2 linked regions of the Homo sapiens genome follow. The protein of the gene in region 2 purifies or fractionates together with the protein of the main gene of each other region. This does not show direct contact. Each region holds a gene or a part of one and is shown on either strand. Other genes may lie near its edges.

The links. The genes of interacting proteins can lie anywhere in the genome.
Region 1: the proteins of CCDC110 (region 2) and XDH purify together in Homo sapiens (affinity purification with mass spectrometry; one large-scale study listed by BioGRID and IntAct). This does not show direct contact.

The regions. Positions count from the first base shown.
Region 1 is NC_000002.12:31,366,243-31,369,742, forward strand, and holds part of XDH (xanthine dehydrogenase/oxidase), read right to left. Parts: intron 2,419-3,500; coding exon 2,299-2,418; intron 1,816-2,298; coding exon 1,719-1,815; intron 753-1,718; coding exon 628-752; intron 1-627. UniProt on the Homo sapiens protein: Key enzyme in purine degradation. Catalyzes the oxidation of hypoxanthine to xanthine. Catalyzes the oxidation of xanthine to uric acid. Contributes to the generation of reactive oxygen species. Has also low oxidase activity towards aldehydes (in vitro).
Region 2 is NC_000004.12:185,454,734-185,458,233, forward strand, and holds part of CCDC110 (coiled-coil domain-containing protein 110), read right to left. Parts: coding exon 3,393-3,500; intron 3,083-3,392; coding exon of another isoform or gene 3,033-3,082; exon of another isoform or gene 3,009-3,032; intron 2,597-3,008; coding exon of another isoform or gene 2,463-2,596; exon of another isoform or gene 1,668-2,462; coding exon of another isoform or gene 1,603-1,667; exon of another isoform or gene 1,586-1,602; intron 1-1,585.

The sequences.
Region 1 (3,500 bases), on a different chromosome or scaffold from region 2:
TGCAGCTTTGTGGTTAGTGATGCTGGGGCCTGCCAGACTGAATTCAGCATTGGTTTTTAACCAGAGGGCAAGCAGTTGGTCACAGAATACTTTTAGAAACTTATTCTGTCTGACCAGGTGACCAGCGACTGGTAGATCATGAGAGTAGGACCAGCTGCCGAAAACACTGGCAACCGCTGTCACATTACAGGCAGTAGAGAAACAAAGAATATTTGAGCTGCTGTAGATAATTTAGTGGTCCCTGTGGCTATGACTTAATCCAACACCTTCATTTTACATATGAGGAAACTGAGGCAGGATATGACTTGACCGAGGCCATAGGCACTGAAATGATAACTGCCAACATGTACCAAACTCTAGTCTAAATATTAAAACTCATCTAATAATTATGACAACCCACCCAGGCCCCATTTTATAAATGAGAAAACTGAGGCTGAGAAAGGTTATGGAACAAGGTCAGTGATACCAGCTTGTTGGTGAAAGAGTCTGGCTCCAGGACTATGACACTCGAGTACCCTCTGGACCAGCCCACATCTCCCTCTTCCTATTTCCCACATGGCCCTCCTGGTCTGCTAGGAGCTCCCCGCTACCCTGACAGCCCCTTGAGCTGACCCAAAAGGCATCTACCTGGGTCTTCATGGTGTTCTGTGTAGACACAAAGAGCTCCATCTCCCCTGCCTCGCCTTTTGGAACAGCAATGGTGCAGTGAGTCTCCAGGTAGAAGTGCTCTTGGCCACCGATGTATATCTCCCCTGGGGAAGCAGTGAGATCCCTCACAGTGAGCCCAATGCTGCAGAAGGGGCCAGCTTGCCTAAGGAGAGAGTATACTCTGCCAAGTGGTCTGGGCAGGAAGCAATGGCTACCTGAGGGGTAACCTCAAGGTTTCCCACTTGGGGTGGAAAAGGATCCCAAAGTCTTAGCTATCTGGGAGCTGAGTGCTCCAGCCTCATCCCCACCCCCACAACAAAGAAAGAACGACACTGAAATGCATCCAGTCCAAAGTTCTCTTCTCACTGCAGCTTATGGAAATCAAGGATTTCAAAAACCATCATTGTAAAATTTTGGAAAAAGTAAAGCAGGGATTAATAGATGTGATTGAAACACTGAAAACCAGCGCATGTTCCCGAACCTAAGCTACCAGGCCTGGTGGAGAGTCGGCTTCATACCAGGCTTGTTGGAGAGTTGGCTTCATAGTGACTTTGCAAAGCACAACAGCCAATGTAAAAAACAGTTCCAAAAGAGGTAGTCAGCTGTGTTGTCCTGGGGTGGGAGCAATGGATTTGATTTCACAGTGTCAGAGACAGAGGTGGAGGGAGAGCAGGGCAAAGGGAAGAGGAGGGAGGATGCTAGTTGAAGATGGGTAAGGACTGCCTTCAGGTAGGGGGAGGATGAGAATTTATGCGGTTAGAGGCCTGGCAGACCTAAGGCTGTCAGGCATATGTGGCTGTTATCATCCCTAGTTGGTCTTCCGGATCAGAATACTCTAGAATCTCTCTAGAATCATTAGGTCCAGCCTAGAGACAGGAGAGTAGAGATTAAGATAACTGAAGCTCTTTCCCATCCAACTGTCTCCTATTTTGCTACAAACGTAAGAGGGAATCTTCTGTCAGGAAATGTCCAGAAATCACTTCCCTGCTTCAGGGTTCAATGCATATCTCTTGAATTTAATTTGCAAACCAGGGCCACCCCATTCCCACTGCGGCATGGAACAGCTCTACCTGACACAACATTATCTGCTTCGGAAAACCCCTTCTTTAGGTCCCCTTTCTCGATCTTCAGCTCAGGTCCATAAAAGGAGTTGTTCTTTATAGCATCCTGAGGATCACAAAGAAGTTTCAGAAATGTGGCTTTTAGCAGGGAGGGAAAGATAGGTTCTGATTAGGGAAAGAGAAGCTCTCTGAATTGTTGACTCTCTCTTTCCATAAATGAATCTCTATATGCTTCACATACAGACTTGAAGTAAGCTCTACTATAGCCCAGAGAATCATATTCCTCCATTTCCTCAGCTGTAGGTGGACAACCCTGGACCTTGAGGAAAAGCAAAGAATACCACAAGGACCAGATGGAGGTAAAATTTTGAGAAGGAGGAACTCAGTTTGGCTGTTGTTAGTGGACTGGGCATAAGATCATAAAGGGGAAGGTTTCATGGGACCCCAAATCCCAGGGTTGAAAGGGATTTAAAAACCCATCTAGTCAAATCCCTACCTGCTGCTCAAATCCCCTCCAGGGGATCCTAATACATGCACATCCAGGGACGGGGAGCTCACTCCTCTACACAGGCAGCCCATTCTCAGTTACCTCAATTGTGATAATGGCTGGTAGTTCTTCATAGGTGATTTTCACCCCTTGGGCAGCTCTCTGTGTGTGTTCCGGGGTGTCAGCAACCACAGCACCAATGATATGCCCAACACAAGTAACCTAGTAGCAGAGACAGACTGTTAAAGAACGCAACCAGGCTCATGGTGAAACAAATTATTTTTGGATTGTTCAAAAAGCCAAAAGAAGTCCCTGCCCTCACAATCAAAGCACACTTTAGGAATGCCCTAGGGCCTCTTAATTTCCTTATCCTACTGATTGAGGATCACTAGGATCAAGATGGCAAACACATTTCATCTCAAGGGCCAATTCTGAGTATTTAGTACTGGCAGACTATTGAGAAGCTGAACCAGATAGAATGTGGCAATTGATTCCTTGTTTGCCATGAGCAGAAAGGGGGATATGGCACCAGGAAGTGCATTTGTCAATTCGGATTCACTCCAACACCATTGGTCTTCCTATGGAGACTCAGAAGGCAAGGCCACATTTGGCTAGTTACTATTGACAGATCATGACTAACCTTAGGCCCTGACCCCCAGTTTTATTTTCTTTTCACCTCACCACTCTCTTTTATGTTCTATTTCCCAGATTTATACCAAAAGCTTCTCAAAGGCTGTAAAGGCTGTAAGCATCAATATAAGGCCTGTAAGACACGTACTTACAAGACATGATACTTTAAGTATCATGTCTTATACTTCAACTAATACCCAAAAGCAGTAGCTCTCAAATACTGGTTCTTAGACTTGATGACCCATAAAAATATTTTTAAAAATTTATATGATAATGATTGTTGTTTTATTTTGTTTAATAATTCAGTTTCATAAAAGCTTAATGGATCTCCTTCAGAGATAATTGTCATCCAACATCCCCGAAAAAGTAAACAACAAAAAATTTTTGTACAACACATCACTTTAGAAGATGAAGTTTCTGACAATAGGAACCAACAATTAGTATGCATGTCTCTGATAATTATCTCTTATGGCCCAAATAAGCTATTGACTCAGTTGGTTAGTGCAATGGTGGTTAAATCTGGCTGTTGGTTATTGCAATGGTGGTTAAATCTGGCTGACTTTCACTAGCCATAATGCTAGCACTGCTCTGAGAAGCTCTTAAAGTATGTAAAGCAATTTGTTCTTCTATGAAATGCTCTCCTCATGGAGTCTTTGTTCTCATATTTTTAGTTT
Region 2 (3,500 bases):
AAGTGACCTAAAATGTCATCTTGTCTAAGCTTTGCTGTTGTTGTTAACAGATGGGGTCTCATTCTGTCACCCAGGCTGGAGTGCAGTGGCACAATTATAGCTCACTGCAGCCTCAAACTCCTGGGGTCAAGCGATCCTCCTACCTCAGCCTCCTGAGTAGCTGGGACTACAGGTATGTACCACCCCACCCAGCTAATTTTGTCTAAACTTCTTGATACTTAAAACTCTTTATAATGTTCGTACAAGGTGAATGCCCAGCCTCTGCCTAATATTCTAGTGTAATGGCAGCCTGTTCATTCATCATTCACTTAACAGATGTTGAGTGTCTGCTATATTCCAGGCATGGTTCTGGACACTGGGATTCAGCAGTAAACAAAATAGACAAAGGTAGGTTAAAAGTAAAAGGATGCACCTAACTTTTTAGTTATATTGTTTGTTTTATATTGTCAATGTTTTTTTAACACTAACACTCTATTTTGTAACCATAATTCAAACAGTTCTTTAATCTTAATTTTGTATTTAAATGGATATAGTGCTCACCATTAGTTATTTTCTTAATACTTTAGTTCTTTGATTTATATTTGATTTTCAGGATTTAGTAATCCATTTTCATGGTATATATTTATTATTTAACTATTCAGAGTTTCTCCTACTGATTCATCATTACAAAATAAATATAAAAGGATGCAAAAAGATATACTATGCAAATACCAATCTAAAGACAACTAGAGGGGCTATATCAATATCAGAGACTTTAGAACAAGGAATACCCCTAGGGATAATGAAGGTTATTTCATAATAATAAAGGTATCAGTTTACCAACTGGACATAATAGTGCTAAATGTGTATGCATACATAAAAGAGCTTTGGCCAGGCGCGGTGGCTTATGCCTGTAATCCCAGCACTTTGGGAGGCCGAGGCAGGTGGATCACCTGAGGTCAGGAGTTTGACTGAGTCTGGCCAACATGGTGAAACCCCGTCTTTACTAAAAATACAAAAATTAGCCGGGCATGGTAGTAGGCGCCTGTAATCTCAGCTACTCGGGAGGCTGAGGCAGGAGAATTGCTGGAACCCAGGAGGTGGAGGTTGCAGTGAGCTGAGATTGTTCCATTGCACTCCAGCCCGGGCTGACAACAGTGAGACTCCATCTCAAAAAAAAAATATTAATAATAAAAATTAAAAGAGCTTTAAAACACACTAAACAAATTTATAGAATGAACAAATCAACTTCTCTGTTCCTCTATCAGTAACTGTTAGAACAAGCAGACACAAGATCAGTACAGATATAGATTTGCTCAAACCTGTCAACCACGTTTACTCAGTTGACATTTATAGAACACTCCAGTTCACCTGAAACATCAACCAAGACAGACCTTATTCTGGGCAATAAAACAAGTCTCAATAAATTAAAAAAGATTATGTTCTCTGATCAAAACAGAATTAAATTAGAAATCAATAAAAGAAAAATAACTGAAAATCTCCAAACATTTAGAAATCAAGCAACTCACTTCCAATCCATTGGGTCAAAGAATAAATCACAAGTGAAAAAGAAAGTATTTTGAACTGAATGAAAATGAAAACATACCAGACTCTGTGATGCTATTAATGCAGGTACGAAACTAGGGAAGGAGCCAAGTAGCACCAGACGACCCAAAGGAATGAAATTACTAAATAGGAACAGAAATCAATGGAAGAAAAAAACAAAGCAGCAAGAAAAATCAATGAAATAATAAGCTGATTTTTTGAAAAGAAAAATAAAATTGGTAAAACTCTAGCAAGAATAATAAAGAAAAAAGAATCCCCAAATTACCAATGTCAGAAATTAAAGAGGGGACATCGCTACAAGTCCTTTGAACGTTAAAATGCTAATAAGGAATATTATGAACAACTTTGTGACAATACATTTGAGAACTTACATGAAATGTACAAATTCCTCAGAACATACAAAATTGTCAACTCTAACTCAAGAAATAGAAAATCTGAGTAGTTCTATATTAATAGAAATCATTTAGCAATGTAAAACCTTCCCATTTAGAAAAATCCAGGCCCTCTGGTGAATATTTACATATTATATATTTTACAAATATGTATGAGTATTACATATTTAAATATTTAAGGAAGGAATAATATTAATAATACCAATCCTACACAAATTCAGAAAATAGAGGAGGGGAAACACTTCCCAACAGGATTTTCCTGATGCCAAAGCCAGACAAAGACATTACAAGAAAATAATACAGACCAACATCCTTCTGAATACAGAAGCAGAAATCCTTAACAAAATATTACCAAATTGAATCCAGGAATGTATATTAAAAGAATAATACAACATCACCCAGTGGAGTTTATCCCAGGAATTCAAGGTTAGTGTTTCAAAATTAACATAATTTACCATATTAACAGATTAAAGGAGAAAAACCAGGATCACCTCCAATAAATGTAGAAAAAGCTTTGGACAGAATTCAACAAGGAATATTTGAATAGCAGTCTTGGAAGACAGAGTGTCTCTGGAGCACAGAACAGGTGTGCTTGCAACCTTGGAAGCTAGAGATTGTGTTTCCTCTGGAGCCAGGGCAGGCATGTGTATTGTTTCCACCTACAGGAAAGGGCAGGCATCTTACTATCCGTTATAATACTCGGGTTTCTAAGCTCACTCTCTCCTGTAATGCAATCCACTGTGTGATCCTCTTTACACTGCCTGTAGAAACTGGGGCTTGGACAACCAATGCAAACATGCTGATTCCCTGGCTCCTGCTATTGTAACAAACTCTCCTTAATCTCTCGCTCAGGAGTCTTGTGACTTCCACTAGAACCCACAAAACTGTGGCAGGCTAAAATATGAGCTTACTAGTTGGGTAAAATCTCAGATTCGCCACCGTTCTTGACAGTATAAAATATATACTTAATTCCAATTTCTAATTTTAAAAACTAGTCTAATCAATTACCAGGTTAATGTAATCACATAATTTAAAATTATTTTGTGGGGGGAAAAAGTACTTGGACAAAGGTTTTGAAACATTGATTTTAGCAGTTTATTTATATATCTTGGATGGAAGCAAATGATACAGTTTACTTGGAATTCCTAGGGAAAAAAAAAAGAATTCTTTTAAGGTGGGAGTGCTACTTATACTTTAAAATAATAATTAACTCCCTCTTGCTCACTGCCAAACTTGGTTTGTACACATACAATGCACATAATATAAACAAAATAATATATATTTTATCTAGAAAAAATTCCTAAATAATTTCACTGTATAATAAATTGGATACAAATTTTACAAAACAAAATTGTATTCATTTTAAAGTTTCCTCCTTATTTCTGTACTCTGTAGTGCCCAATAGGCTAAAAGAATCTTAAACACATCTCTACTAATCTACCAGGACTTGCGTACCTTTCAAATCCGAAGCCAAAGGCCTACTCTGAGGACTAGAAGTATCTTCGTGAGTATAGTTGTCAAAATGGAATTTCTCTCTTCTTGAAATGTAAGTTGTTTTTGAAG